5 separate regions of the Homo sapiens genome follow, and regions 1, 2, 3 and 4 are each linked to region 5. The links come from fine-mapping of genetic effects on gene expression. A gene starts in region 5. Each other region holds a variant in brackets. All regions are shown on one strand. Distances are between the middles of the regions.

Region 1 (5,101 bases), 110 kb before region 5:
CATGGGAGGGACTCAATTCTGGGCCTTCTGAGCCCCAGTGGCCTTGTGTGCTGACTCCCCAGTGTGTCCCCAGCATGAATGCGCCAGCCCACACAGTCACCTGCCTCCATGAACGCGCCAACTCCGCGCATCCACCTGTCTTCCCGAACGCAACGACCCACGCATCCACCCACCTCCATAAACGCGCCAATCCTGCTCATATGCCGTCTTCACCAACGCACCAACTCGCACAGCCACCCGCCTCCACACCTGAGCCCGGGGACCAGGTTTCTTCTCCCCGTAGTTCTGTGCTGGTGGCTCTGGGCTGCTTTGGGAGACAAGGACAAGAGCAGGAGCGGGAGAAGCTGGCCTGGCAGTGGGGTGCAGTCCCCCGGGCTGGGCCACTAGCCCCACAGGGATGGGGACGTGGTGCCGGCTGAGGACCCAGGGGCTTCACTCCACTCCATCTCACGCTTCCAGCTACCCTGCTCTTTGCACTTCACAGAGGGGGAACCAAGCCCAGCAAAGGTGGACACATACCAGCTGCTATGCCTTCCTAGGTCCTGCCCAGTGACCCACCTGTAGGGCTGTGCTGTCCCCAGACCCATGAAGGCACACATAGGCTTGTGGCTTTGGGCAGGTGGGACTCTCTCCCCAGGCAGGCGGGGACTCTCTCTCTCCCGGGGCAGGGGGGGACTCTCTCTCTCTCCCGGGGCACGCGGGGACTCTCTCTCTCTCCCCGGGCAGGTGGGACTCTCTGGGCAGGTGGGGCTCTCTCTGGGCAGGTGCCACCATGCCTGCTTTCCCACAGCCCACACCCCGGGCCCCAACACAGAGCAGCAGGTGCAAGGCTGCTTACTGCACCGGCACATCCAACCACCTCCACAAACGCACCAGTCCATGCATCCACCCAGGCTGAGCTAAGGGCCCCTTGTACCTAGTACAGTCTCAAGGGTGGAGTGGCCAGGAGGGAGCCCTCCCACTGCCTTGGCTTGAAGCATCAGTGGCCAGTGGTCCACACTGAGACCCTAGAGCCCCCTCCCCCAGCAGGTCGGCAGGTCCTGGTCAGGAGGAGGGGCCAAGAGGAAAGGAAGGGCCCCCAGATAGCTGGTGAACTGCTTCCGTACACGGGATGCCGTTCCACACGCTACATATCTGGACAGAACAAGACAAAGATGCGTGCCCATTGAGAGGCTATGCTGAGGCTGTAATAATACTGAGGAGAAAAGTTAAGGGTAGGCTGTTTTTCTGAGATTTAAAATGGTTGGGGGAGGAAGGAAATCAGCGAAACAGCACCACAGGCGGCTCCTGGGCAGAGACCAGAGACCTGCAGGGAGGGCAGAGTGGTCCGGGGGGGCAGAGACCTGCAGGGAGGGCAGAGTGGTCCGGGGGGGCAGAGACCTGCAGGGAGGGCAGAGTGGTCCGGGGGACCAGAGACCTGCAGGGAGGGCAGAGTGGTCCGGGGGGGCAGAGACCTGCAGGGAGGGCAGAGTGGTCCGGGGCGGCAGAGACCTGCAGGGAGGGCAGAGTGGTCCGGGGCGGCAGAGACCTGCAGGGAGGGCAGAGTGGTCCGGGGCGGCAGAGACCTGCAGGGAGGGCAGAGTGGTCCGGGGCGGCAGAGACCTGCAGGGAGGGCAGAGTGGTCCGGGGGGGCAGAGACCTGCAGGGAGGGCAGAGTGGTCCGGGGCGGCAGAGACCTGCAGGGAGGGCAGAGTGGTCCGGGGCGGCAGAGACCTGCAGGGAGGGCAGAGTGGTCCGGGGCGGCAGAGACCTGCAGGGAGGGCAGAGTGGTCCGGGGCGGCAGAGACCTGCAGGGAGGGCAGAGTGGTCCAGGTGCGGGGGGCGGCCAGCAAACACCACCCGGGGAACGGGCCGAGAGTGCGGGGTGGCTGCGAGGACGTGCCGAGGGGGTGAGAGCAACCTGGTCACCAAACCTTCCCCAGGTAATGAGAATTCGCCTTCGAAACCTGGGCCCAGGCACCCCAAGACCATGTGGAACATTCTGAGTCATTCAAAAAAGACATAACTATGTCTGACGCATTCTTTTAATTAACTGCCCTGCTCAGGTGGTCAGTGGGCCCCACTTCCCAGACACACCACGCCCCAGAGAATGCAGGGTAGATGGGCCCCAGATCCAGAGAACTGCTCCCGGCCCACGGGGCTGCCCCAACACGTCCCTCGCACTCGGCCCGCCTGAAAATAAAGTCTCTGAAATGGAACCTGGGGCTGAGGATGAAGCCCCCCGCAGGTGGATCTGCTGTTGGCCAGAGCAGAGAAGGTGC[C/T]GTGGAGGCCTCGGCGAGGCTCCTGTCTGCCAAATCACTTTCGTGGCATCACGAGAATCCACTGTGGAGGTGTGAGGGCCAGGAGGCCCTGAGAAGTGGAGGCCCTGGCCCTAAGAGGCCACAGCCACCCACCCACACCGCCAGGCACCCCCAGGTGACAGTGGCCCTCAGAGGCCGCAGCCACCCGCCCACACCGCCAGGCACCCCCAGGTGACAGTGGCCCTCAGAGGCCGCAGCCACCCGCCCACACCGCCAGGCACCCCCAGGTGACAGTGGCCCTCAGAGGCCGCAGCCACCCGCCCACACCTCCAGGCACCCCCAGGTGACAGTGGCCCTCAGAGGCTGCAGCCACCCGCCCACACCGCCAGGCACCCTCAGGTGACAGTGGTGCCCTTGGGCTGCTCCAGTCTGTCCATGACAGGCAGGGGCAGGAAAACCACCCAATCAGCAGGTCCCCAAGAGAAAACACTGGTCGGAGTCGCCAGAAAGCACGATGCTAGGGTACTGCACGTATGTGGGCAGCGCCTCTGCCCCAAGCATCCTTCCTCCAGCCCAGTCACACTGTCTGCCTGACCAATCCTGCACGCTCCTCACTACCCTGCCCGGATACCCCCTCTCTGGGAAACCTGTGAGCCCCAGGTTGCTGGAGGGCCTCTCCTCTGTGCACTCGCGGTGCGGACCCAGGCCACGGACAGTCTCGGCAAGTCCGTTACACACTGAAAGAAGACCTACCACTACCTCGATACGAGGGAACACAGCCCAGCTCGGTCTGTGAAGCTAGTAGAACCCTGATACCCAAACCAGATGAAAACAAAACTACGGACTAATATCCCTCATAAATACAGACGCAAACATCCTACTCAGCAACATGGAAAAAGAGTCACACACCATGCATGACAAGTGGAGTTCACTCCAGAGGTGGAAGGCTCGCTCACTATTTAAAAATCCATTGGGCCGGGCGCAGTGGCTCACGCCTGTGATCCCAGCACTTTCGGAGGCTGAGGCGGGCGGATCACCTGAGGTCGGGAGTTCAAGACCAGCCTGACCAACACGGAGAAACCCCGTCTCAACTAAAAACACAAAAATTAGCCGGGTGTGGTGGGTTATGCCTGTAATCCCAGCTGCTCAGGAAGCTGAGGTAGGAGAATCATTTGAACTTGGGAAGTGGAGGTTGCAGTGAGCCGAGATCACGCCATTTGCACTCCAGCCTGGGCAATAAGTGCGAAACTCCGTCTCAAAAAAAAAAAAAATACCATCGATATAATGCACCCTATCAACAGGCTACAGAAGAAATACGACGTGGTCAAACCAACTGATGCAGGGGGCATGTGACGAAGTTCAAGACCCACGCGTGGTAAACACCCAGGAAATCGGTAACGGAGGTGCCTCCTGAGTGAGGTGAGGAGACACCCAGGAAATCGGTAACGGGGGTGCCTCCTGAGTGAGGTGAGGAGACACCCAGGAAATCGGTAATGGGGGTGCCTCCTGAGTGAGGGGAGGAGACACCCAGGAAATCAGTAATGGAGGTGCCTCCTGAGTGAGGTGAGGCACATCTGCAGGTGCTCCTCCAAGGCCAGGAGCAGGGCAAGGGTGTCCACCCTCCCACTGTCCCCACTGCTATCCAGCATCAGGCTGGCCGGGGGCCACAGGCAGGAAAAGGACCAGAAAGGAAGAAATATAACTCTCTGTATTTGCAAGCGGCATGACCGTTGATGCAGGAAATCTCAGAGAATCTACGAAATAAATCCTGGGACTGTGAGTGGGTTCAGAAGGCATGGGACCGCAGACAGTCAGGGAGCTGGCAATGGGCTCGCGGAAACTGGCATTCCCGTGCTACCACCACCTACGACTGCTCAGCAACAAGGAAATGCTTAGCTGTAAATTTAACAAAACCTGTATGGGACTTAAATGCTAAAAACCACAAAACACTGAAGAAACAAACTTTGAAGAATCCAAATAAATGGAGAGACACATTGTGTTAATGGACAGAACAGACAGCAGAGTCAAGACATAAATTCTCCCAAAATTGAGGTACATGTTTCATGCAACTCCTACCGTAAATTTCAGGGTTTTTTTTTTTGTAGGTAAAGACAAGATTATTCTAAAACGTATATGGAAAAGCAAAGTAACAAGGATAGCTAAAACAGCGCTGAAATACGATGACTAGAAGGAACTGCATGCCTGATTTCGGGACATCGGACAGCTGTGGTGCAGCACGGGCAGTGGGAGACACACAGAGGAACAGAGAACAGTGAACCCAGGAGGTGCCCCATGTTAGCAATGTGATTTTTTCAAAATTTTATTTTAGGTTTAGGGGTGCCTGTGCAGGTTTGTTATACAGGTAAACTTGTGTCATGGGGGTTTGTTGTATAGATTATTTAATCACCCAGGTACTGAGCCTAGTACCCAGTAGTTATTTTTCACCTTCTCTCCCTCCTCCCACCCTCCACCCTCCTTTTCCTCCTCCCTCCTCCCACCTCCACCCTCAAATTCACTCCTGTGTCTGTTGTTCCCTTCTTTGTGCTCATGAGTTCTCATCATTCAGCTCCCACTTATAGTGAGAACATGTGGTATTTGGTTTTCTGTTCCTGCCTTACTTTGCTAAGGATAATGGCCTCCAGCTCCATCCATGTTCCCAGAAGACATGATCTCACTCTTTTTAATGGCTGCATAGTATTCCATGGTGTATATGTACCACATTTTCTTCATCCAATCTGCCATTGGTGGCATTTCAGCTGGTGTCATGTCTTTGCGACTGTGAACAGTGCTGGGCTGGTGTCATGTCTTTGCTATTGTGAACAGTGATGGGCTGGTGTCATGTCTTTGTGACTGTGAACAGT
Region 2 (5,101 bases), 130 kb before region 5:
CTGTGGGTGGGGAGTCCTTGGGTGAGTGGAGTCCTGTGGGTGAGTGGAGTCCTGTGGGTGGGGAGTCCTGTGGGTGAGTGGAGTCCTGCGGGTGGGGAGTCCTGTGGGTGAGTGGAGTCCTGTGGGTGGGGAGTCCTTGGGTGAGTGGAGTCCTGTGGGTTTGGAGTCCTGTGGGTAGGGAGTCCTGTGGGTGAGTGGAGTCCTGTGGGTGAGTGGAGTCCTGTGGGTGAGTGGAGTCCTGTGGGTGGGGAGTCCTGTGGGTGAGTGGAGTCCTGCGGGTGGGGAGTCCTGTGGGTGAGTGGAGTCCTGCGGGTGGGGAGTCCTGTGGGTGAGTGGAGTCCTGTGGGTGAGTGGAGTCCTGTGGGTGGGGAGTCCTGTGGGTGAGTGGAGTCCTGTGGGTGGGGAGTCCTGTGGGTGAGTGGAGTCCTGCGGGTGGGGAGTCCTGTGGGTGAGTGGAGTCCTGTGGGTGAGTGGAGTCCTGTGGGTGGGGAGTCCTGTGGGTGAGTGGAGTCCTGCGGGTGAGTGGAGTCCTGCGGGTGAGTGGAGTCCTGTGGGTGAGTGGAGTCCTGTGGGTGAGTGGAGTCCTGTGGGTGGGGAGTCCTGTGGGTGGGGAGTCCTGTGGGTGAGTGGAGTCCTGTGGGTGAGTGGAGTCCTGTGGGTGGGGAGTCCTGTGGGTGAGTGGAGTCCTGCGGGTGGGGAGTCCTGCGGGTGAGTGGAGTCCTGTGGGTGAGTGGAGTCCTGTGGGTGGGGAGTCCTGTGGGTGGGGAGTCCTTGGGTGAGTGGAGTCCTGTGGGTGAGTGGAGTCCTGTGGGTGGGGAGTCCTGTGGGTGGGGAGTCCTGTGGGTGAGTGGAGTCCTGCGGGTGGGGAGTCCTGTGGGTGAGTGGAGTCCTGCGGGTGGGGAGTCCTGTGGGTGAGTAGAGTCCTGTGGGTGGGGAGTCCTGTGGGTGAGTGGAGTCCTGCGGGTGGGGAGTCCTGTGGGTGAGTGGAGTCCTGTGGGTGAGTGGAGTCCTGTGGGTGGGGAGTCCTTGGGTGAGTGGAGTCCTGTGGGTTTGGAGTCCTGTGGGTGGGGAGTCCTGTGGGTGAGTGGAGTCCTGTGGGTGAGTGGAGTCCTGTGGGTTTGGAGTCCTGTGGGTGGGGAGTCCTGTGGGTGAGTGGAGTCCTGTGGGTGAGTGGAGTCCTGTGGGTGGGGAGTCCTGTGGGTGAGTGGAGTCCTGTGGGTGAGTGGAGTCCTGTGGGTGGGGAGTCCTGTGGGTGAGTGGAGTCCTGCGGGTGGGGAGTCCTGCGGGTGTGGAGCCCAGCTGTGCAGCTGCTAGGTGACACGCCAGCCCCATGTGCAGTGACGCAGGGCTCCTGCGTGATGAGAGGGGCCTCCAGGGAGGTTTAATTTTAGTTCCTTTCTTTTTAGACAGCCCCTCGTCGTCTGCTCCCCGGATGGCCGACCCGGCCAGCGTGGGCCCCTGTGAGGTGCACCCGGGCCAGCCAGGCCATGGCATCTGCCTGCTGGGGGCTGTTTTACTGCTGCAGGGCAGAAGTTGGCATCTCAGCTCTGCCACTTTCTAACTCTCCCACCTTGAGCTGCTGCTTTCCACCAGCCTGTTTCCTCCTTGGGAACGTGGAGTGGTGACCCCACTTCACGGGTGTTCCCAGAGCCCACGCACGGTGAGTCAGTCACAGCTGCTCTGCACACTGCCCTCCCATGGGGCCCGAGGCCACAGCACTGCTGGCCCACGGCACTGCTGCCTACGGCCCTGAACCAAGGGCGCCTCTCTCTCACCGAGCCCCCACCAGGCAGACTTCAAGCCAAGCCCATCTCCCTCACCACCGAAGATGAGCCGTCCCGCTCTTGGCCTCGTCACTGGGGGAGCAGACACAGCGAGGGGCGGGTGGGGTGCTCAGTGTCGCCTGTGGCTCCCACGGCACTGGGCGAGGCCTCCTGAGTGATGGCCGCCTCTGCCACCCACCCTGGGGACTGGTCCCTGCGCAACTGCAGACAGTTCACAGGATGCCTGACACAATCCTCTTTCTCTCTGCCTAGGTGGGGCAGCAGACAGGAGATCCCATCTTGGAAAAGGAAAGAGAGCAGTCAGAGGGAAGTCCCTTGTCCCCAGCATAGCGGGGGCCACGGCCACTGCAGGGTCATCTGTCCAGAGCTGCCTAGAGCGTCCCAGAGAGAAGAACCTCCTCCCCTGTGGTACTCACCAGCTGGGTGGAGAACCAGAGTCCCTGCTAGCCTACTGGGCTTTAAAAAAAAGCAGGGGCGGCTGGGAACAGTGGCTCATGCCTGTAAGCTGAGCACTTTGGGAGGCCGAGGGCGGATCACAAGGTCAGGAGACTAAGACCATCTTGGTTAATACGGTGAAACCCTGTCTCTACTAAAAATACAAAAAATTAGCCGGGCGTGGTGTCGGATGCCTGTAATCTCAGCTACTCAGGAGGCTGAGGCAGGAGAATCGCTTGAACCTGGGAAGCA[G/C]AGGTTGCAGTGAGCCGAGATTGCACCACTGCACTCCAGCCTGGCGACAGAGTGAGACTCCATCTCAAAACAAACAAATCAACCCACAAAAAGCGGGGACTTCTTGCTGAACCCCCTTCCAAAAGAAAACTGAGCGAGGGTCTCTATTGAGACAGCATCTGAAGCCGGCCCGCAGCCACAGCGTCCACGTGCTCGTAACTGCACCAGGAACTGCCAGCCGCGGTGAGCTGACGACCCAATGCCCATGAAGGCCCGAGCGGGGCTGGCGCGGACAGGGGCCGGGTCTCATGGGTTGGCCGCTCCTCCCATACTTGGAGCTGGGCTGTCCCTCGGCAGCGGGGCAGTGGGCCTGGGTAGGGAAGGACACCCAAGAAGTGTCCCCTAAGCTCCGCTGATGGGACAGTTTGGCCTCTGCTCTGGCCTGTCATTCCAGGGTTCCAGGCCCGGAGGCCACGGGGTGCAAGGAAGCTAAGACACCATGCTGTGCTGGGCAACATGGGGACCTGAGGAGGGTGGGCTTGGGCTGCCCCACGGCAGGAGTGACTTGCTCTCGTCCTCCCGCAGGTGAGTGGGGGACCCCGTCCCGGCTGGATCCGTGTGGCCCGGGTCCCAGTTCCTCTCTCTCCTGTGGGGGCACCACCTCCCGCCTCGAGCAGACCCAGGCAGGGGGCCGGCCCCCGAAAATGGTGAGCTAAAGCCTGCAGGGACCAGGGAGGCAGCGGTCACCTCGCCACCTGCCCCCAACGTGAACACCCAGCAGGCGTGTTCTTTTCTTTTTTCAGTTATATGGAAAGTAAATCTTCAATTTCCTGCGTTAAGCATATAAATAAACTCTTTTTTCTCTTTAATGAGGAACAGGCTTGCCCGCTGACAGCCGTGTGCCTCGCTCGTGTAACTACCACAGTGGACCCAGCAACCCAGAGACCCACAGAAAGTGGAGGGACTGCTTCCAGCACTCCCAAACTTCCGCCTATGCAAGGCCAGAGCAACACGGCTCTGAGCTGGAAAAACAGAGCTGGGTGACCAAGCCTGGGGCCCCTGCTGGGAAAACGAGGGGACAGTCACAGCACAGGGAAAGAGCACACGACGGCCACAGTGCAGGGAAAGAGCACACGACGGTCACAGCACAGGGAAAGAGCGCACGACAGCCACAGCGCAGGGAAAGAGCGCACGACGGCCATACTGCAGGGAAAGAGCGCACGACGGCCACAGCGCAGGGAAAGAGCACACGACGGCCACAGCGCAGGGAAAGAGCACACGACGGCCACAGCGCAGGGAAAGAGCGCACGACGGCCATACTGCAGGGAAAGAGCACACGACGGCCACAGCGCAGGGAAAGAGCGCACGACGGCCACAGCGCAGGGAAAGAGCGCACGACGGCCACAGCGCGGGGAAAGAGCGCACGACGGCCACAGCGCGGGGAAAGAGCGCACGACGGCCACAGCGCGGGGAAAGAGCGCACGACGGTCATACTGCAGGGAAAGAGCGCATGACGGTCACAGCGCAGACAAAGAGCGCACGATGGCCACATTGCAGGGAAAGAGCACACGACGGCCACAGCGCAGGGAAAGAGCGCATGACGGCCACAATCCCCCATCCCACCCTCTGGACCCTCCTCTCCCCAGCCCTGCTGCACAGCTCCCACCAGCCCCAGCTTCACACAAAGCCAGGAGCACCCCAGGAAGGCTGCAGAGAAGATGAACCCTTGAGATGCAAGAACAGCCCAGGGTATGGTCACAGGTCACAGGCCAAGGTCACCGTGTGGGGATGCTGCCCAGCCTGCGACCCGGGTTCTAGGGACGGGGCATGAAGACCCCACGGGCGCTGGGTCGACGTGTCTTGGGGGCAGAGCCTTCGGGGGATCTGGAGGGGAGACCCCCAGGGCATCCTGGAATGGGTGGGGTGCCTCCCAGAGAGATGAGAGGAAACTCTCCACCATGAGGGCTCACCAGAACAATCCGGGGTCTCCTCCACACACAGCCCACCTGGCTGCAGATGGCTTTGCCTCCAGGAGGAACCCCTCGTGGAAAGCCCATAAGATGGCCATGGGCCACGGCGGCCAGCATGTCCTTCCTGAGTCCCAGTCCAGGGCCTCTGCAGGGGGAGGACAACTCGGGCACCTACCTTCACCGCTGCCCCTGGGCTGGGGGCTCTGTGGTGGGCCAGCCGTGGCGTGGCCAGTGGTCCCCAGCAGCCCCCAGGCTGAGGACACTCCCCTGTGGGAATCCCCGGGCTCCCTCTCTTTGGAAAACCCTGAGTTGCCAGGGATACCGTGGGCTCCACACATCCACGTGGGCTCTGATCTGGCAGCCAGATGCGGCTGGGCTTGCGGGCACCCTTGGAGACCCCCAGGAAAGAGGAGAAGCTCCTGCCGGGGTGCCCGTGTCTGTGGCTGGCCTCCTGGTGTGTGGATCCCAGGCCTTGGAAGAAGCTCCTGTGGGAAGGGGCTGCTTTGTTTCTGAGAAGTAAGAGTCCCCCCTCCTCCCACACGCAGGACACAGTGCCTCCGCACAGGACTTGCCGCTGGGGGGTTGCGAGTAGCATGAGGGGGCCACGGGAAGGTCCCAGAGGGGGAGAGGAGGGTGAGGCTGAGGACAGGAGCAGGGCATGCTCCCAGGCACTCAGGACCT
Region 3 (5,101 bases), 460 kb after region 5:
TGGAAAGTGGGTAGCCGGGCTGCTGGCCTTCTGCAGGACTGGCCAGGGCAGGCTCAGTGGGTGTCGGCTGCAGAGGGAAGATGTGTCAGAGGGAGGCAGCAGGTGCACAGGTGTGTGGACAAATATGTGGACAGACGTGTGCACAGGGGTGTGGACAGGTGTGTGTGTGTGGACAGGCATGTGCACAGGTGTGTGTGGACAGGTGTATTAGTTTGTTCTCATGCTGCTGATAAAGACATACCCAATACTGGGTCATTTATAAAGGAAAGAAGTTTAACTGGCTCACAGTTCAGCATGGCTGGGGAGGCCTCAGAAAACTACAGTCATGGCGGAAGGGGAAGCAAACACGTCCTTCTTCACATGGCAGCAGCAAGGAGAAGTGCAGAAGTGCAGCGTGAAGCAGGGAAAACTATCAGACTATCAGATCACTTGAGAACTCACTCACTATCACGAGAACAGCATGCAGGTAATCGCCCCCATGATTCAATTACCTCCCACTGGGTCCCTCCCATGGTACGTAGGGATTATGGGAACTACAGCTCAAACTGAGATTTGGGTGGGGAACTACAGCTCAAAATGAGATTTGGGTGGGGACACAGTGAATAGACATGTGTGTGCACAGGTGTGTGGACGGGGTGTGCAGCCTTCAGAGACTCAGAAGGCCAGTGGTGCGCAGGCCCCCGGGGGCGTGACTGGGCCAGGTTGGAGCCCTCCAGGCTGAGCCTGACCTGGCAGGTGTGCAGGGGGTGGGCTGCCCTGCCAGGCGGGTCAGACTTCTGGTTGGCAGCAAGACAGGAGTGTCCTGGGCTGAGTGGAATTCCCAGGCCAAGGGTCTTGCACAGGAGAAAGGGTGGGGGGTGGGGCTGTGCTGATGCAGAACCCCAGAGAGGGGCTCTGGTGGACACCACCCCACCTGTGATGGCCACAGTTTGTGGTGGGAGCAAGGTCTGTGGGGTTCCATGGGTGGGCGGGGTGGTGGGAGGCAGCATCTGTGGGCGTGGGCTTCTGAAAATGCTGATCAGGCGGGTAGGAGGGGTGGCTGTTGTGAGGCCCAGCCCATCCCTGGAGCGACAGTGGGAGGGTTTTGGAGAACCAGACTTGGTGGGGAGGTCACTCTGGAACTGGGATTCAGAGGCTCAGCTGCGGTGGTGCTTGAGGCTGTGTGGGGTCCGAGGAGAGGTGGCTCCCAGCAGGCGAGGCCTCGAAGGGGCTGTGCAGCCATGCGGAAGTCACTTGGCCTCTCTGGGCTGTGTCCTTGTCAACGACTTCAGCTCCCATTTAGCTTCCCCAGGGCCAGGCCCGGGTGACAACACCCCAGATGTGTGGGACTTGTGACCAGTGTGGACCCGAGAGAACTGGGAGGAGGTACAGGAGCGGGGAGCCCGGTCCTGGTGGCTGGGACTATCAGCAGGGAGTTATGGGGCAGGAACAGGGAGAAGCCAGAGCTTCCCGCACCTTCGGGGCTGTGGTCCGAGGGGCTGGGTGCTGGGACGCCTGTGACTGGGGAGAACAGGGCCTGGCAGGGCCTCCCTGGTGAGGCGGGGGAGAGTGGAGGCCCTGGGCGATGCCCGCCTGTTTGCGACATGAGGGTCTCTGGCAGGAAGCCAGGAAGACAAGCCCCTCAGGGTCCTGGGTGTTCAGGGTGTTTGGAAGCCCAGAGAGCTCAAATGGAGGACAGAATCCCCCTGAATGCTGGCGGAGAAGGTCGAAGAGGCCGCAGCTGGGGACATTGTGACCAGAGTGGATGGCCTTGAGCGAGGGCAGCAGGAGCCGTCCCCGTGCATAGGGCAGCGGGGTGGCCGCCGAGTCCTCCGTGGCTCACGTCCCCGCAGAACCTGATCTGCTCGTGAGCTTGGCAAGCATCTCCTGGATTTTTAATTTGTGGGAGAAGCGACCTTTTATATTTCAGATCACATGAAGTTAATTTGCACTCCAAGTTCAAGAGAGCTCCTGAAAAGGTACAAATGTGATTTCTTAACAGCTGTTACTGTCGGGCGCAACATGACAGAAATGATGAGAAGCAAGAGTTCATTTTTAGACAGAGAGGACTGCACGCTCTCTCCCTAGAGCCAGCCCAGGATGGCAGCAATCAGAGAAGAACCCGAGGGAGCCTGAAGGCCAAACACTCACCTTGTGCGATGTCCCTGACCCATAGCTGTCCTGTCTCTGTTTGAATACCTCCAGTGACAGAGAGCTCACTACCTCTAGGAGTGGCAAAGTCTAATGTTGGTTGGGTTTGGTCAAATCTGCTTTTGCTGATTCTGTTCTGCCCTCTGAAGACACACAAAATAATGCCCGTTCCTTGTCCTCAAGGAAGTGGCTCTCTCATCTGCTGCTGACCACCTCTGATTCCTTAAGCACGCATATGTGTGCTGATGTCTGGGTCCAGCCCACCTTGGTCCCTGGGAATGGTCTGGTTTTCCAGTGTCTCTAAAGTGGAGGCCTTGGGACCAACAC[C/G]ATGTTCCTTTTCCTGGTGGACCAGCCAAGATTCCTATCACTTTTCCACTTCTGGGTGCTGTACCCAGCAAGGCGGGGAAGGTCACGTTCATGCAGAGCTTCTGAGGTACCTGTCATCCCGCCTGGGTGTCGGGGAGCAGGCTCTGTTTGTGGGGTGCTGTGGCCAGCGCTGTGGGGGATAGGGCAGGAGAAGCAGCCCGCAGGGGGTTAAATCCGGTGGGTGCAATGGAGTTGGCGGTGTTGGGAGCTGGCGGTTTTAGGATGAACCTGCCAGTCCAGGGTGGGGCTCAGCTGCTACCCAGGGAAAACTTGCCCCGTACACCAGGGCTGAAGCTGAAACAGTCAGATCCTCTTTCTCAGTTATTTGGGGGAATTGGGGACAGTGGGTTTGTCCCTGCTGGTGGCCATGGGGTAGCTTTATTTCCCACCGGATGTGGGAAATCTAAAGTCTGGTTTTCAGAGAAAGGAGAGAAGGGGCCGGGTGTGGTGGCTCACGCCTGTGATCCCACCACTTTGGGAGGCTGAGGCGGGCAGATCACCTGAGGTCAGCAGTTTGAGACCAGCCTAGCCAATATAGTGAAATCATGTCTCTACTAAAAATACAAAACTTAGCCAGGCGTGGTGGTGGGCACCTGTAATCCTAGCTACTTGGGAGGCTGAGACAGGAGAATCGCTTAAACCCGGGAGGCAGAGGCTGCAGTGAACTGAGATCGCGCCACTGCACTCCAGCCTGGGTGACAGAGCCACTGTGACCAGTGTTTCTTTGGTTTTTTCTTCTCTTGTAGAGATGGGGTCTTGCTCTGTCCAGCCCAGGCTGGTCTCGAACTCCTGGGCTCAAGTGATCCTCTCGCCTTGGCCTCCCAAAGTGTCTGGATCACAGGCATGAGTTGCCACACCCGGTCTCCTCATATGACAGAGCAAGACAGAGGGAGACTCCATCTTAAAAAAAAAAATAAAAAAAGTGGAGAAGGAGAGAAGGGGTCAGGGAGGCAGCCAGGAGGGAAGAGTGAAGTAAGAAGCAGATGAAGAGAAGCAGGGTGGGCACACACCCAGAGCCCCCCTGTGTCACCCGCCTGCTACCAGACCCAGGAGGGTCCCGTCGGGGTGGGGGTCCTGGGACTTAACTCCTCCTCCAGCCTCAGCCCTCCCGGTGCCAAGATTCTTCAACGTCCTCGGGATGCACCTCCGCACTGTGGGGCCATCTGGGTCAGCCCGGACGCACCGGCCTCTGTCTGGGTCCCAGTCTTCTCACCGCCAGGCGGGCAGGTCAGCAGACCAGGCAGGACCGAGCCCGTCGCCCGGGGCTCTTGTTGTCTGTGCCATTTCGGTGCCTTTTGTCCTTGCTTCCCGCCGCTCCTTGAGGATGTTTACCGGCTGCTGGGGCCGTGCCTTCCAGGTGAGGCCTCGGTCATTCCAGGTGCAGCCTCGGATCAGGGATGACGGCCCAGGCTGAAGTATCATGATGAAGAGCTTGGACCGAGGGCAGTTAAGGTGTGTGAGTATTCAGATCCCCCACGTGCCCTTCTCTGGAAGGTGCCAGCGACCTGTCCTCTCTGGGCCTCTGTCTTCTCCTCTGTGGAATGGGAATGATGGCGTCCGCACCTCATAGGGCTGCTGGAAAATGGGTCTGGGTCTCGGCTGGAATTTCAGCCAGCGCCGAGGACCAGAGGCCCTGGTTCCTGTCCACGTGGCCTGGGACCCCCGCGGCCCCGCACCTGGGCTCCGGGGGCAAGTGTGTTCGCTTTGAGGACCCAGCCTTGGAGGTCAGATGGCATCCGTTATGGGTTAAATTTTGTCCCCCTAAATTCATATGTTGAAGTCTTAACCCACAGGGCCTCAGAATGGGATGGTATTTGGAGCCCGGGCCTTGAAAGAGAGGGTGACAGTAAAATGAGGAGACTGGGTGTGGCAGCTCACGCCTGTGATCCAGACATTTTGGGGAGGCCAAGGCGAGAGGATCACTTGAGCCCAGGAGTTCGAGACCAGCCTGGGCTGGACAGAGCAAGACCCCATCTCTACAAGAAAAGAAAAAAACAAAAAAACAGTGGTCACAGTGGCTGATGCCTGTAATCCCAGCCCTTTGGGAGGCCATGGTGGGAAAATCGCTGGAGCCCAGGAGTTTGAGACCAGCCTGGGCAGCATAGCAAGACCTCATCTCTACTGAAAAAAAAAAGAAAAATTAGCTGGGCATGTTGTTGCGCCCGTGGTCCCAGTTGCTTGGGAGGCTGAGGTGGGAGGATTGCTTGAGCCTAGGAATTCAAGACTGCAGTAAGCCGTGATGGTGCCACTGCACTCCAGCCTGGGTGACAGAGCAAGACCCTGTCTCAAAAACAAAAGTCCAGTGAAGTTATAGGGGTGGGCCCTAATCCAATCTGACAGGTGTTCTTATATGAAGAGGAGATCAGGACACACACACACACAGAGGCACGACCCTGTGAGGACCCAGGAGGAAGACAGCGTCTGCAAACCAAGGAGACAGGCCTCAGTAGGAACCAGCCCTGCCCACGCCTTGGTCTCGGACTTCAGCCTCCAGGACTGTGAGGGATGAATGCCCATGGCCGGCGTCGCTTGGTGTGTGGCGTTTGTTCCGGCAACCCTGGGAGGCTGGTGCGATGTCTCTTTGGTCTTACTCTCTCCATCGAGA
Region 4 (5,101 bases), 140 kb before region 5:
AGGCCAGTCACCGCTCTGAGGTGCAGGCCCCGAGGGCCACGGCTGAGGAGGCCCAGCCAGGCCAGCAGTGGCCACGGGAAGCCCCAGGCCCTCCCCACAACAACAGCCCGGAGCCTGTGACTCTGCTCTCACAGGGTGAGGCCGGCCGTGCTCCCGCCTCCCGGCTTGCATGCAGCTCTGTGCGTTGGTGGCAGCCAAGGCAGGCAGCCTGACCTCAGCCTCAGGAGCTCTGTTGGGGGGCGGGGCACCCAAGGGGGCACTCAGGGCCTGAGCCAGCGTCCCAAGGCTGCCAGGTGGCGGCTGCAGCTACTTTTCTGCTCCACCGTCAGTTGGGGGAGCACTGAGACGGCAGCACAAACCCCCAACCTGGGCTGGGCAGGAGGCGGCCCCGGGGCAGCAGCACCTGGGTGTCTGCTCTGTGGAGGCCCAGACCGGAGCCACTGGCCTCAGCCCTCCCCGGGGCCCATCCTGGAACAGACTTGGCCTCACAGTGGGGCACGGACCTCCTCGCCATGGCCACCCGGCCCTCCCCGGCAGCTGCCCAGAGCTCTGCGGTCACCACGGCCTTCCCGGTGCCCCGCGGCACCTCACATCACTTGGGGGCAGGGACCACGTGCTGCTGGGAACAGGAAGTGTGTGGCTTGATTCTGTGCGGCCTAAGTGTGTTTCCTGGCAGGGTCAGTCACTGCCAGCGCTGGGAAACGGCCGGCCTGAACGCAAGCGATCAGCCAGCACCCACTGCCAGGAACGCCACACACAGAGCGCCCCCAATGCCATCCTGGGGTGGCCACCAAGGGCGGGGTCTCAGCCTGGCGTGCGCTGGCATGGGGGACACGAATTCCGCAGTCCACAGGCAGGGGACGCACCGCACAGAGCAGGACCCACGGCTGCTGCTGGGTCGGGTTTTATTTCAAATGCAGCCACAGAGGCGGTTTCTGCACAGGTACGTGATCCGACTCCACAAGCTCCCACCAGGGGCTCCCCATGACCCGCAATGACGCTGTGTGGGGTCAAAGGAAAACAGGCCACAGCCAGGCCCCTCGATGGACGCAGGCAGGGGACCAGGAATGCGGCCCACGCAGGGGGATCGGGAATCAGGCGGAAGGTGCAGGTTTGCAGCTGGCGGGAGGAGCCAGCATGCCCCAATCTCTAAAATATTCCCGGTAGAAAAATAGACATTTCCCTCCAAAGCAGATTCCTGGGGCTGGAGGGTCCCTCCAAGGCCAGGGGTCCGGGTGATTCCAGAGCATCCACGCTCTGCGCTGAAGGCACTGAACCTGCCATCACTGTCACAGCCGTCACCGGCCAAGGAGGGTCTGGAGGAGGGAAGGGGCCCTTGCGAGGCTCTGGTGCTGGTGATCCCGGCCCCCACCACCGGAGGAGCTGAAAGCCCTTGCTCAGCCGCTGCCCTGCTGGTGAACCCGGCCCCCACCGCCGGAGGAGCTGCACCCTGTGTGGTCTGAGGCAGCCCTGCACTGGGCAGCGGCCCCGCCCCGCGCTGAACCCACTAGGAGAGCAGCTGCAGCACCTGTCGGATGCGCTGGGCCCTCCCCGGCAGGGGGGGATCAGAGCCCTCCTCATCCAGCTCCCGCATCAGGGCTTCCGCCTTCTGCACCGTCAGCTCTCGGGCCCGGCCCTGCAGCCCCTCCAGGTAGGCCAGCAGGGTGGAGAAGTGCTCATCGGGAACCTGGACGGGAAAGAGATCGAGTTGGTCAGGGGCGGGGCAGGGAGGGGCCGCTGAACAGCAGGAGACAAGACGCTGCAGCCAAGGACACCCGGGCCTCAGGCTTCCGTCCTCCCACTGCGGCCCGAGGGTGTGGGCGGCCTGGCCACAGACCCTGCCCCAGACACTGGAAGAAGAAATGCCTGTTTAGAGGCAGACAAAACACTCAATTAACCTGGGTAAAACAGAAGCCATGTGGGGAGAACATTTCACAAACATCGTAAAAATCCTCAGAAAAACGAGAAAATACGACACAAATTAAACAGGGGTAGGCGGTGATGAAAGGTGCATTCAGAACAAAAAGCCAAGTACGCGCCGGCACTTGGCACGCTCGCCTTTCTGCTCAGGGCGGCAGTGGCCAGGTGGCATCTCTTGGTGGCCTGACCCTTGTCTGCTGGTGGTGGGGGCACCTCTGCACAGGCTCACCAGTCACCTGACAATCTGCTCTGCAGGCACGTTTCCTCAGGTCCCTGTGGCAGCGGCTTTCAACACTGGGCTCTTTTTATTATTGAGTTAGCAGAGTTCTAATTCCATGTGGGACTTGCAAACGTCTCCCATTCTGTAGCAACCATTTCACTTTCCAGCTAGTTCTGTATGCAGTGCAAAGTCTTAGATTCTTTTTTTTTTTTTTTTTTTTTTTGAGCCGGTCTTGCTCTGTTGTCCAGGCTGCAGTGCAGTGGCACGATCTCCACCTCCCAGGTTCAAGTAATTC[T/G]CCTGCCTCAGCCTCCCAAGTAGCTGGGATTATAGGCAAGCATTACCACACCTAGCTAATTTTTGTATTTTTAGTAGAGACGGGGTTTTTGCCATGTTGGCCAGGCTGGTCTCGAACTCTTGACCTCAAGTGATCCACCCGCCTCAGACTCCCAAAGTGCTGGGATTACAGGCGTGAGCCACCACGCCCGGCTACACAGTCTTAGATCCTGATGAAGGCACTTTCTCGACTTTTTCCTTTGTCGCTTGTGCTTCTAGAGTCACATTTAAGAAACTGTTGCCTCACCCAAGGGCACGAAATGGACTCTTAGGCTTTCATCTAAGAGTTTTGGTTTTAGCTTTTAAATTTAAGTCTCTGATCCATTTTGAGTTAATTTTTGCATATGGTTTGAAGCTGGGGGCTGCGTGCATTAAGTATCGGCATGTTCGTAAATATGTACGGTTACATATGAAATAAAAATGTATAAGTAAAATGCACATTTGTGTGTTTGTAAATATGTTTAATTACAATAGTGTAAGATAACTTTGCGTGTGTGTGTGTGTGTATACACACATATAAATGGCTAACCAAGGATTTGCCTAACCAAGGATTATTTTTCTGTATAAAAAGTTTTGTATAAAGTTTACTTTTGGTAATAGTAACATATAAATAAAACCACGTAAACTTTGGTTAAAACAAAACAAAACGTGGAAACCCAGTTGTCCCTGGCTCTGTTAAGAAGAGGTTTCCTCCACATGGAACAGGCTTGGCCCGCATGCTGGAATCAGCTGCGCCGGGCGTGAGGGTTTCCAGGCTTCCCAGGCTGTTCCAGTCAATTCTACTTCCACCCTTGTGCCTGCCCCAGTGTCGCGATTACCGGAGCTTGCAATAGGGCTTACAATCGGCTTGCAATAGGGCTTGCAATGTGTATGTCCTCTAACTCTGAGGAGGGAGAGTGGCTTGAGCCCAGGAGGTCGAGGCTGCAGTGAACTGTGGTCGTGTCACTGCACTCCAGCCTGGGCGGGGCCCTGTCTCAAAAAACGCCCACAAAAAAACAAAAACAACAAAATAATGAAAGCAAGTGGCTGCAGGCTATGCCTGGAATGTCCCAGGGCTGTGAGTGGGGCTGGTGGGCCTGCCCCGCTCTGAGAGTCTGCAAACACAGGCACGGCAGGAGAAAACCGCCCCCTGCCCCCAGCGCGCACGCAAAGCCTGGCCTCTAGTAACGTGGGCGCAGGAGAGCCAGCGAGGCAGGAGGCACTGCCCACCGGATGCAGCTCAGCAGAACCGTGGGCTCCTCCAGCCTCACAGGACATGGGCAGCTCCAGCCCGCCGCCCAGCAGCCGGGTTTAGTTCAGAATTCTGTCTCGTTTCATCCTGTGAAACTCTATCTCACATCCTGCCCCTGAAAAGGGCAGCTGCCCACACGTACATGTGTAGACACACATCACGCGCACACACGTGTAGACACACGTCATGCACACACGCACGTGTAGACACACGTCACACGCACACGTGCAGGTGGCCTCCCTAAGGTTACCCCGTGTTGGTTTCTGCCCTGAAGGCCGGCGGCAGGGCTCCTGGAGGAGGCAACGCTGCTCATCTCTTAGAACAAAGGCACCGGGAGACCTGCCCTGCAGTGGGGCCCTGAGGGCGGCCCCTTCAGACTGTGGCTTCTGCTGTCAGGGCCCCAGTGTGCACAGGAGACGTGCCTGCCCCGCCGTGCACAGACCTCAGCCCCCAGGAGACGTGCCTGCCCCGCCGTGCACAGACCTCAGCCCCCGGGAGACGTGCCTGCCCCGCCGTGCACACACCTCAGCCCCCGGGAGACGTGCCTGCCCCGCCGTGCACACACCTCAGCCCCCGGGGGGACGTGCCTGCCCCGCCGTGCACAGACCTCAGCCCCCAGGAGACGTGCCTGCCCCGCCGTGCACACACCTTGTCACTGTCATACATGTGCAGCAGGAGCCACGTCTGCCTCGTCTTCTGAAACCTCCAGTTCTTGTGCTTTTGGGCCCATCTAGGGAAAGAAAGACAAACATCTCAGGGTGCTGGGCAAAAGACTCCCGGGCAGCTGTCTGCCCTGAGAGATCGGGGACGCCTCATCTTAGGAGAGGGAGCCCCACCAGGTACTACACACCAAGGCCTCATGTGAAGAGGGTTTTTGGAGCCCCTCCCCTGCCCGAGGCGAGGAGCCGCAACCCCACGCCCTGCTGCCGCCTGACCAGGAAGCATGTGGACGCCACTCTTACCTTGGCCACCCCGGGGCTCACCACTGACCCCAAGTCCCCGTGGGCTCCCCCACCCCATGGGTCACACGGATTTTACAGGGGGGGAAGGATGAAGTGAGTTTCTCTGGGAGGAAAGGGAGCGATGTAATTGATGATGTATTTTCTACATGAAAATGGGAAGACTGTAAGGAACAATACCCTGAGTCCCAGGCCCTCACAACAAGGGGCCAGTGGGCCTGGGGACGAGCAGCTCCCGGCTGCTAGAGGGGCCGCTCCCCAGGGCCACAACCACCCCGCCCCCGTCCCGCTCCTGCACTAGGGCCTGTGGACATCAGGCAGCTGCGGATGGAGCGAAGCTGGCGCTGTGGGTAGGGCAGGGCCAGGCAGGGTTTACTCCAGAGACCTCCTCCCAGATACGTGTTTCCAGGGCCAGGCAGGGCAGCCGAGCCCAGAAGC
Region 5 (5,101 bases):
TACATGTGTGTATATATATGTATGTGTATGGCCGGGCACGGTGGCTCACGCCTGTAATCCCAGCACTTTGGGAGGCCGAGGCGGGGAGATCACTTGAGGTCAGGAGTTTGAGACCAGCCTGGCTAACATGGTGAAACCCCATCTTTACTGAAAACACAAAAATTAGCTGGGTGTGCTGGCACCTGCCTGTAAACCCAGCTACTCGGGAGGCTGAGGCAGGAGAATCGTTTGAATACGAGGTGGAGGTTGCAGTGAGCCGAGATCGCGCCACTGCACTCCAGCCTGGACAACAGAGTGAGACTCCACCTCAAAAAGAAATATATATATATATATATATACACAATTTATTTATTTATTTATATAAAATAAATATATAAATATATTTACATAAATATGTATTTATATAAATATATAAAAATATATATGAATATATAAATATATAAGTATATATAAAAATATATATAAGTATATATAAATATATAAGTATATATAAATATATATAAATATATATAAGTATATATAAATATATAAGCATATATAAATATATATATAAAATATATATGTATATATAAATATATGTATAAATATATAAGTATATATAAATATATATAAATATAAGTATATATAAATTTATATAAATGTGTATATAAATATATATACATAAATATATATAAATATATACATAAATATATAAATATATATACATAAATATGTATAAATATACATAATTATAAATATATACACAAATATATAAATATATATAAACATATATAAATATATAAAATATATATAAATATATATAAACATATATAAATATATAAAATATATATAAATATATATAAACATATATAAATATATATAAACATAAATATATAAATATATAAACATATAAATATATATAAACATATATATAAATATATATAAATATATAAACATATATATAAATATATATAAACATATATATAAATATATATAAACATATATATAAATATATATAAACATATATAAACATATATAAATATATAAACATATATAAACATATAAATATATATAAACATATATAAATATATATAAACATATATATGAACATATATAAACATATATAAACATATAAACATAAACATATATAAACATATATAAACATATATAAATATATATAAATATATAAAAATAAATATATATATGCGGATGTGTGTATAAACTGTGTATATATATAACTATATATATAACCATATATATGTACTTATATATATCATCTACACATATATCATCTCAAGCTTAAGAATTCGTAATCAATACCCCTGATCACCCTCCACAAACCTGAGCTTCCTAGTGTTCATCCTCTCCATAAACATCCATCTGATGAGGTTCACATAGTAGCTCAAGCTTAAAACCTTGGTCCATCCATAAATCCTCTCTTTCTCACATACTCGTCCAACCCACCACAAACTCCTGTTGGTTTACCACTGAAATACACCCAGAATGTGACTCCCTTAAGATCCCATAGGTACCCAGTCCAAGCCACCACCTCTCACGATGGCTTTTAAACTCCTAAATCAGATGGTGTGTCACCTCCACTCAAAAAACTTCCCAAGCTGTCCCCTTCCACTTGGAGGGAAAGTCAAGGTCCTTGCCACTTGGTAAGGTCCACACGACTGCCCTGGCCCCTCCTCGCATCTCTGGGAACTCACCTCCTCTTTCTCTCTCTGTTCCCAAATTGGCTGCAGCCACACTGGGCTCCCTGCTGTTTCCCCTGCACCTGCTGTTTCCTCGACCTGGAATGTTCTGGTGCCTCACTCCTCCTCCTGCTTCCTTTCCATTCTCAAAACCCCTGTTCTCATCTTCTCCATGGCACTTACCATCACCTGCTCTGTGCACCTTGTTCATCTGTCTCTCCCCTCCAGAATGGAAGTTCACTAGATCACAGACTTGTCTCCACTTGTTGACAGCTGTAGCCCAATGCCCCGAACAGTGCAGGAGGAACCCAATGAACGTTTTTTAAAAATGAATGAATGAATGACGGAAGGAAGGAAACGGAAAGCATGCTTATGATGGAAAGTGAGGCCAAGCGCGTTGGCTCACTCCTGTAATCCCAGCACTTTGGGAGGCCGAGGCAGGAGGATCCATCGCTTGAGCCCAAGAATTCGAGACCAGCCTGGGTAACATGGTGAGACCCCATTTCTACAAAAAACATTTTTAAAAATTATCCGGGTGTGGTGGCGCGCGCATGTGGTCCCAGCTACTTGGGAGGATGAGGCGGGAGGACGGCTTGAGCCCAGGAGGTGGAGGCTGCAGTGAGCTATGATCACGCCATTGCACTCCAGCCTGGGTGGCACAGCGAGACACTGCCTCAAAAATTGAAAAAGAGAAAGTGGGAGCTGAAAGCCTCGGAGGGCAATCAGGGCGTCTTCAGAGAAAGACAATGAAACCAGAGCCACTGCAAGCCCTGACGGCCTGAAACCTAGGAGCCAGCTGAGTCCCTTCCACTCGCCCGCGCTGAGTTAACCCAGAGGCGGGTGCGGGTGTCGGAGCCCGCGCCGGGACGCACCGGCCGCACCGGCCGCACCAGCCTCCCCAGCACCGCGGACCCCAGGGCCGCCGCCCGGTCGCGCCGCGCCGGGCCTCCGCGCACCCACGTGGAGGGGGCGGAGCCCCGCGGGAGCCCGCCCCGGGGCTCTGGGTCTCCTGGCGCCCTGACCCGCCGGCCACCCCGCCGCCGCCCCACGCGCCTACCTGCGCCCACCTGCGCCCACGTCGCCCACCTAAGCGTGAACAGCTGCGTCGCGGACGCCGCCTTCCGGCAGGGACCCGCGCCCCAGGTAAGCGTTAGTCCCGCCTTCAGGAGTGCGGAGCCTCCCATTGGACGAGGTCTGCGTCCGTCTCTCCGCCGGCTAATGGCAAGCGGCGGCAGCACGGGGGGCGGTTCCAGGACCGGGCGCGGGCTACTGACGCCATCTCTAGAGGCCTAGAGTTGCTTGGAGAGGAGCTGGTTGCCAAGGCAACCCGCCCTGCCCAGAACAAGTGCAGATGACTAGGTTTGGGCCCCGCAGGGCTTGGGGGTCTGGGGTGCAAGCTGCCCCGGCCGGGCTGGCGTCCCGGGGTGGGGCCTCCGCCGAGGGTCCAGGGTATGGAGCTCGGCTCGGAGTCGAAATGGATGAGCTACGGCTATTGGGATCAACAGGGCTAGGACTTAAACTTCGTGCTGAATTTAAAAAATCAGGATAGGTGCTAAAAAATACACAGGGTGGGTAGTGTTATAATAATGCTTGTGTCCGGGAGCGGTGACTCACGCCTGTGATCCCAGCATTTTGGGAGGCCCAGGCGGGCGGATCGCTTGAGCTCAGGAGTTCGAGACCCGCCTGGCCAACATGACGAAACCCCGTAACCCCGTCTCTGCTAAAAATACAAAAATTAGCCAGGCGTGGTGGCAGGTGCCTGTAATCCCAGCTACTCGGGAGGCTGAGGCAGGAAAATCGTTTAAGCCCGGGAGGTGGAGGTTGCAGTGAGCCGAGATCGTGCCACTGCACTCCAGCCTGGGCGACAGAATGAGACTCTGTTTTAAAAAATAAAAAATAAATTAAAAAAATAAAAATTAGCCGGGTATGGTGGCACGTGCCTGTAGTTCCTGATACTCTGGACGCTGAGGTGGGAGGATCGCTGGAGCCTGGGAGATGGAGGCTGCAGTGAGCTATGATCAAGGCACTGCACTCCAGCCTGGGCAACAGAGCCAGACCCCGTCTAAAAAAAAAAAAGAAAAAAAAGCATGCTTTCAAGTCACCCAGTAAGTTAAGTGCTTGGCAGCCGTATCAAGTATGATGTACGTTGCCTCAGGAATCCAAAGGTGACAAGCAAAGAAGGTGCACTCTTCCTTACTGGTAGAAGATTGTATTTGGTTCCTTTTTCTGCATAACAAATTAACCCAACATTTAGCAGCCTAAAAGAACATTTATTTTTTCATGGTATCCGCGGTCAGGAAAGTGGGCGTGGCTAAGCTCTGTGCCTTTGCCTCAAGGGTTCACCAAGTTGTGGTCAAGGTGTCCCCCCAGGGTTGTGGTTTCATCGGAAAGCTTATCTGGAATGATCCACTCCCAAGCTCACACACACGGATATTGTAAGGACTCAGTCCTCCAAGGTCATTAGAGAAGGGCCTCAGCCTTGCTGGCTGCTGCCCAAAGGCCACCCTCAGTTCCTTGGTACATGGGCCTTACCACAAGGAAGCTCACAACACTGCAGCTGGCTTGCCTTAGACGGTGCAAGCACACACAAGAGGAGGCACACACAAGACGCACATCACAGTCTCCTTGCACCCTAATCTCAGAAGTGACTTCCCTAGGCTTTTGCCATATTCTGTTCATTAGAAGTCGGCCGGGTGCGGTGGCTCACACCTGTAATCCCAGCACTTTGGGAGGCTGAGGTGGATGGATCACTTGAAGTCAGGAGTTCAACACCAGCCTGGCCAACGTGGCAAAACTCCATCTCTACTAAAAATACAAAAATTAGCCAGGCATGGTGGCATGTACCTATAATCCCAGCTACTCAGGAGGCTGAGGCATCAGAACCTATTGAACCCGGGAGGCAGAGGTTGCAATGAGCTGAGACCGCGCCACTGCACTCCAGCCTGGGCGACAGAGCAAGACTCCAGCTCAAAAAAAAAAAAAAAAAAAAAGTGAATCATGGCCAGGTGCAGTGACTCAGGCCTGTAATCCCAGCTCTTTGGGAGGCTGAGTCAGGAGGATGGATGGACACCAGGAGTTCAAGACCAGCCTGGGCAAACAGTAAGACCTCATGTCTACAAAAATAAAAATAGAAAATTAGCTGGGTGTGGTGGTGCACGCATATAGTCCCAGCTACTTAGGAGGCTGAGGTGGAAGGATTGCTTGAGCCTGGAAGATGGAGGCTGCAGTGAACTATGATCACACCACTGCACTCCAGCCTGGGTGAAAAAAAAAAAGGAAAAAAGGAAAATAATTTTTTTTCATTTTTATTTTTGGAAATTGATATGGTTTGGCTGTGTCCCCACCCAAATCTCATCTTGAATTGTATCTCCCATAATTCCCATGCATTGTGGGAGGGACCTGGTGGGACATAATTGAATCATGGG

The links. PIP is the estimated chance that this variant, and not a neighbour inherited with it, causes the effect. A credible set is the group of variants that fine-mapping cannot tell apart.
Region 1: its variant is the best candidate, but not a certain one, in a credible set for the expression of CHLSN in whole blood (TOPMed, PIP 0.74).
Region 2: its variant is the best candidate, but not a certain one, in a credible set for the expression of CHLSN in caudate (GTEx, PIP 0.62).
Region 3: its variant is the best candidate, but not a certain one, in a credible set for the expression of CHLSN in putamen (GTEx, PIP 0.64).
Region 4: its variant is the best candidate, but not a certain one, in a credible set for the expression of CHLSN in prefrontal cortex (GTEx, PIP 0.50).

What each region holds. Positions count from the first base shown.
Region 1 is chr7:1,030,063-1,035,163 of GRCh38, forward strand. The region is part of intron 2 of CHLSN (cholesin); the gene reads right to left. Among named protein-coding and RNA genes, the nearest start is that of MIR339, 9.6 kb to the left of the region's middle. RefSeq lists silencers at 604-703, 764-893. The variant C/T (reference allele first, on the strand shown) is at 2,262.
Region 2 is chr7:1,002,753-1,007,853 of GRCh38, forward strand. The region is part of intron 3 of CHLSN (cholesin); the gene reads right to left. It overlaps LOC124901570 (a long non-coding RNA gene), which reads left to right and starts at 1,407. Exons shown (of 3, transcript XR_007060184.1): 1 at 1,407-1,660; 2 at 2,037-2,693; 3 at 3,036-3,319. The variant G/C (reference allele first, on the strand shown) is at 2,472.
Region 3 is chr7:1,598,445-1,603,545 of GRCh38, forward strand. LOC105375123 (a long non-coding RNA gene) reads left to right here. Exons shown (of 8, transcript XR_001745048.2): 4 at 265-466; 5 at 1,982-3,723; 6 at 3,854-3,948; 7 at 4,837-5,064. Among named protein-coding and RNA genes, the nearest start is that of PSMG3-AS1, 31 kb to the left of the region's middle. The variant C/G (reference allele first, on the strand shown) is at 2,458.
Region 4 is chr7:996,118-1,001,218 of GRCh38, forward strand. It overlaps CHLSN (cholesin), which reads right to left. Exons shown (of 5, transcript NM_001318252.2): 4 at 4,353-4,434; 5 at 889-1,687. The coding sequence ends at 1,508. Among named protein-coding and RNA genes, the nearest start is that of CYP2W1, 15 kb to the left of the region's middle. RefSeq lists enhancers at 1,121-1,661, 3,118-3,707. The variant T/G (reference allele first, on the strand shown) is at 2,436.
Region 5 is chr7:1,135,456-1,140,556 of GRCh38, forward strand. It overlaps CHLSN (cholesin), which reads right to left and starts at 2,792. Exons shown (of 5, transcript NM_001318252.2): 1 at 1,860-2,792. RefSeq lists silencers at 2,352-2,401, 2,412-2,861, 3,062-3,201 and an enhancer at 2,922-3,021.